2 separate regions of the Homo sapiens genome follow, and region 2 is linked to region 1. Evidence: fine-mapped expression QTL. A gene starts in region 1. The other region holds a variant in brackets. All regions are shown on one strand. Distances are between the middles of the regions. Region 1 holds the start of GALNT15 (polypeptide N-acetylgalactosaminyltransferase 15). Region 2 has its middle 65 kb from the start of GALNT15.

Region 1 (2,915 bases):
GCATCTTGAAAAGCACTTGCTCTAAGTCAGGAGAGGCAGGCTACGGAAAGTTTGCATTCCCGAGTTTGCTACCACCCGATCATGCCCTGGGATCAGGGAAGGGAAAACAAGGGCCTTACTTACAGTGGGTGCCGCACCTCGGGCAGAGCCCTCTGGAGGGGGATGCGGGCACTGAGTGCCTCCTGGAGGCCACGTGGGTCCAGGCTGAACGGGGTCAACTCCTCTTCTTCAGACACCTCCCCGTCCTCATCAGCCCCCCAGTCCCTCTTTGGGGCTTCCTTATCCTGCCTCCTTGGCTGCTTGATGAGGCGGTAGCTCCCACCTCTCCTGCCCTGGCTCTGGTTCCTTCTGGCCTGGGGTAAGGCCACGGCCACCAGCAGCTGATCCTCCCGCAGTGAGATAAAGGGTGGCAGGCCCTCCAGAGGGCTGTACTCTTCACCCTCATCCTCAGCTTCCAGTACCCAATCCTGGGATTCCCCAAAGTCCAGGCGGTACCTGGCTTCAGGGCTGTGCTTGCTGGCTTGGGCTGTGACAGTCTGGTGCAGGGTGTGGTGGGGAGGGTGCAACATCGCCACCATCATCAGGACGCATCCCAGCATCAGGAGCAGCAGGAGGAACTGGAGTCTGCATGGTCTGTGCCTGTATCGCTTCCTTAGGAGCATGTTGCTAGAACTTGCCAAATGCAACAGGTCATGTTCAAGTTAGCTTTCTCCCGCTCCAGGCTCCTTCAAGCTTGCAGCAGAACCTGGGTTGCTTGTTCCACCTGGAAGTTTTTCTGCCAGTCACTTAACCTGGTCCTGACATTTGCCAACAGCGTGTGCAAGACCTGCTTCCACTTACAATCAGAAAACCACAGGACCCAAGTTTCACCCCAAGTCCTCTCTGAGTGGATTTCTTTAATTGCCTTCTGAAAGCCCATTCACAGGGACTTCAAATTGAATTGCTTCCCTCCCTTTACCCCGGTTTTCTCCTTGGGAAAAAAATAATGATTCCATTCTGCTCAGGTGTTTCTTTCCCCCTTTGTATAAATAGGTTGCTATGAGGTGTCTGGGATGAGCTGGTGGGTTCTCAGTCAAGCAGGGCTGACAGCCGTCCCTCTTTGGACGCTTCCAGTCAGGTCAGATCAACAGATGTAAAGCCGGCAGGCAGTGCCTGGTTTCCTTTCACACATAGCTCCACTCAGCCGAGAGCCCTCTGCCAGACACAACCCAGAGCCAAGCGTGCGCGTCACTCCTGGTCCTAATGCCCTCACTGTTCCCAGGCTTTGCACAACTCGGTGTGGTCACTGCTAGAGCCAAATCAAAACAGGAATATCCCAAGAGTTCAGAAGGAAAGACTAATACCCTCTGATTCAGAAAGGCTGTGTGTGTGGCATAGCTGCAAGGAGCTGCAGCTGTCTGTTTGCAACCTCAGCCTCCCATGGGGGATCAGGCAAACTAGGTTGGACTCTCCTTCCCTTCCTGGGGACCACTGTCCCTGGCCTCCTGAAAATGAGGGAGCTAAGGGAGATGATCTTGCAAGTCCCTTCTTCTCCCACAAGAGCAGCTGAATGCCTGCTCTGCCCTGGCCACCAAGGGGGACGCTGGAAGAGGAGTGGCATGCTCTTTCCCTCATAAAGCTTCCTTCATTTAACCAACACATAATTAATGAACACATGCTATGTGCCAAAATTGTTCTGGGAACTGGAAGTAGAGCAATGAATAACACAGACAAAAATGTGTGTCTCATGGAGCTTGCATTCTAGTGACAGATACAATTAAAACTATCCACTGGGTCAGATAGTGATGAGGATGAAGGCAAAAAAGCAGAGCAGGGATGGGGCTGGGGAGCATGGGCTGGGCTTGGAAATGGACATTGAGTGGTGGAGAAAGGTTTCATGGAAGAGTTACCATTTGTGTAAAGGAGAGGGCTGCACAGCTATTTGAGGTTGAGTGTTCGGGGCAGACAGAATGATAAATGTGAAGGTTCCAAGGCAAGAGTATGCTGGCATGTCTGAGGAACAGCCGGCATGGCTGAAGCAAAGAGAGCAGGGTGGAGCCTGATGGGAAGTGGAATAAGAGAGGCAAGGGGGCGGGGGGCAGGAGGACCATGCAGGACACCCCCTGGTTGCATTGAAGGAACTTTGGCTTTTCCTCTGAGTGAGAGGGGAGCCCTTAGAGGAGAGACACAATCTGACTTGGGTTTTAACTGGATCATTCTGGCTGCTGGGTTGAGACTAATCAGTGGGGGGCAAAAAGCAGGAGCAGGGAGACCAACCAAGAGGTTCTTGGCTTGCACTAAGTGGCATCGGTGGTGACAGGGGTCAGCTTGTGGATATACTTTAAGGAAGAACCTATAGGATTTGCTGATGAATTAATGACTAATGTGAGAGGAAGAGAAGAGTCAAGATGAGTTCAAATTTTTGTTCTGAGTAGTTGGAAGAATAGACTTGCCATTAACCAAGATGGGGAAGGAGAGAAGGTGGAAGGAGATGAATGCATGCCAGTGGCTTGATTTGGAACATGTGACATTCGAGATGTCCTCTAGACAGCTAAGAGGAGATGAAGTGAAGGCAGCAGTTGTAGGATAGCTGAAGGTCAGGGGGAGGTCTGGCCTGCATATACAAAGCTGGACTCCAGCAGCACTCAGATAGTGTTTGAAGCCGTGAGACCTGAGATCACTGAGGGAGTGAGGTAGGTAGAAGGGAGAAGAGAATCCAGCATGCTCAGTTTTCAGGCTTCTGGCTTGAACAGGTTGAAGGATAGCTGACCATCACCATGAGCAGTGTTTCTTCTGATGGCTGTAAAGCAGCCATGCTGTCTGCAACCAAGAGTGGAGGGGGGAAAACTGCCATTGGGGAAGTCCTGCAATGAACTTGCTCATTGTTTTTGTCTTTATTTTGATCTTAGAATGTCAGCTAAAATGTTTGTGGAAAA
Region 2 (2,915 bases), 64 kb after region 1:
GACCAGTCAGAGCTTTAATCTCCTTTATCTTGTGGTTCTACCAACCCCTAGTATATTGTCTTCATCTGTGTGTTTGGAGCCTGGTTAGAGGCCTGTTCAGGTTATACCCTTTGAAAAAGGAAAAGCACGTGGAGGAGTACACAGGCTATATTTAAAGGACTAAACTTGAAATTTCATGTGTCATTTTCACTTATGTTCAACCAGCAAGAGTGTAGTCATATGACCACATCTGGCTGCAAGGAAGGCTGGGAAATGTAATTTCTAGCTGGCCAGCCATGTATCCAACTACTATGGAAGAAGGGAGAGCAGCTTTTGGTGAACAATATGCAATCTCCACTTATGGATAGCAAAAAAATAGTTTAAAAATCTGCAGAGATTTTCATAGATAGTAAGATAGCGCAAATTATCATAGTAACATTGTTTCTGAAAAACTAGACAAGGAAGTTAATTTGATACCAGCTTGCATGAATGACGATGAGAAAATGTGGTAGGCCTGCTTTGTCTATGCTGTTTAACTCTCCCTTTCCTCCAGGATAGTGGCCAATTCATGGTCACCTTTCAGGAGAACAGTGACAAACACAAGTGTATTCAGGAGTCAATAAGCTGATGAAGCCCTCAAAAGCAGGTCATAAGCAGAATGGTTGAAGGCCTTGAGGAATTTTGTCTTGAAGAGAACATTTGGGAAACAAAACTTCTGCCTTCAAATATTTTAAAGTGTGTCATGGTGAAAGGAGATAAGGTTTATTCTGTCAAAGCTCCAGAAATAGATATAATAAGAGGAAGCTGCAGGGAAATACATTTATGTTCATTATAACAAAAGAAGATCCTATCAGACAAGCCCAAAATAATTTACACCTCAGATGCATTTTGGACTAGAATAAGAGATCCAAAGTGCTAGCATTTATTGAGCACCTATGATGTGCCAGACACTACTCAGGCACTTTCACACACTTTATTCTTTCCAACTAAAAGTTGCTAAATTGGTAAGGCTACACCCTACATCCTTCTGACGGCTTCTGAAGAGGACACTGTCCTCCACTTATATTAATTTACACTAGTTCTTTTCTGAGTGTCTTCTCTTTTCCTGAATCAGTCTCCAATTGTGGAGGCAATTTATTGCAGCTCCACAATGCATTTCTTCAAACCCTATTTTTCAGCACTCACTGGCAGTCCTTCAGAGGATATATATGTGTTAAATCTGTGGGGTAGAACATCCTAGGGGGAAATCCTGGGGATGTTGTGTATATCCCAGGTTGTGGGTTCTGTGGCAGATGGGAAGCTGGCCAGGGCAGGGAAGGAAGGAAGCCTGTCACTTTCCAGCAGAAGCCTGCGACCTTTGTGGGGGTGTGCAGTCCTGACCAGCACAGCTTTGTGATGGCCTAAATGCTGGCTGCTTTACCACATAGATGACTCTGGAGAATGCTGTACGGAGGGTGAGTGGGCTGCTTTGGAGGCTCTGTCCAGTGCACAGACGTCCAGTGTCTTCCACATACCTTCTTCTTTGGGAACTGGTGGGGAAAGATGCCCTTCC[T/C]AATGTGTTAAGAGTTCCTCCTTCTTGAGTCAACAAGAGTTCTTTTTCATTCTTTGTGTCTCCTGAGCTAAGGTTTCTTGGTCTCCCAGATGTGTCTACCTGTGTGTCTTTAATTCAACACTCACCCCAGTCAATGCCAATCTCTAATGTTATGTCATCCTACTGGAGGGAATCCCAGGCAGGGAATAGAAAGTGACATGGAAGGAGAGACTCGAAAGCTCCAAATCTCCTTGAAGCTTGTGATAAACTGCAATGTTGTATATGGACCTAAAGTAAGTGGCAAGAACTTCCCACACTTTTCCAGGAAGTTGAGGAAAAACAGAGAGGGTGAGGTAGGAAACTATCTGGCCACATAAATATTCCATTTAAGATGTGAGGAAGCTGCACAGAAGACAATGGAAAGCCCCTGGAGCCATCAAGCAGCATGACTGGGGAGGTGGCTTGGAAAAGAAAGGCATCCTGTCTGTTACACGTACCCAGCCCTCAGTCTCTTCTTGTGTCTTCCAGACCCTGCTGCCTCAGATTTGTCAGATATTAATAGAAGTTGCTATGGCCCAGGAATCAAAGATCCCAAAGTGAGGTTGGGAGGGTTCTGGTCTTGTAATCCTGCAGAAGAGAATGTTCACAGTCTAGTTCAGCCTTTCCAGTGATAAGAGTTCCAGCCAGGTTCCTCTGAGCTACCTGATGGAAAGCACACTTCATCACAGCAAACAATCATGTTTTCCCAAGAAAACAAAATGTGGATTCAAATAAGAAATGGATTTTCTTCCTATCACCTTCCTGAGGCCCTCTTACTGTTCGTCTTCAGTCTACTGTGGTAACATGTGCTGTCAAATTAGCCTAGAACAGCTCAACTTAGCATCACAGAGAAGTGGAAGCAAAGAGACCGGGGTAGGTATGATGTAGGGAACCTCATTAGGATTATTTCCTTGTTCTAGATTCCAATAAAGTGAAATTATTGAGTTAAAAGATGTGATTATTGTTAATGACTTTAATACACATTGCCAAACTGCCTTCCAGGAAAGTTGTAACAGTGTCCAGGTATTGCTGTCTTGAACTATTTTTCATATTATAGTCCCTCAGCAATGTCTAGTCCCAAAGCTAGTGGTTATACCATTTTCCTGAATCATACCACTGCCCTCCATCCTCAGAACTTAACCCTAACTTTGATACTTAGAACTCCTTGTGTACTCACTCACTCTACAGAATGGGAGTATTTGAAAATTGAGTTTGGAATAAATATTTATTCATATATGAAATTCCCACTCCAGAATTACACCAGTCGCATTACACACCCACTATGCTAGCCACACCCTTGACACGAACTCATCCCATTAAGTGGCAGCATTGTGTTAGTAAAGGAAATAAAGGAAAAGATATCTTT

What was found.
Region 2: its variant is fine-mapped to the expression of GALNT15 in spleen (GTEx, PIP 0.97).

Annotation. Positions count from the first base shown.
Region 1 is chr3:16,172,899-16,175,813 of GRCh38, reverse strand. GALNT15 (polypeptide N-acetylgalactosaminyltransferase 15) reads right to left here and starts at 1,134. Exons shown (of 10, transcript NM_054110.5): 1 at 124-1,134. The coding sequence starts at 662.
Region 2 is chr3:16,108,543-16,111,457 of GRCh38, reverse strand. No RefSeq gene overlaps it. Among named protein-coding and RNA genes, the nearest start is that of GALNT15, 65 kb to the left of the region's middle. The variant T/C (reference allele first, on the strand shown) is at 1,532.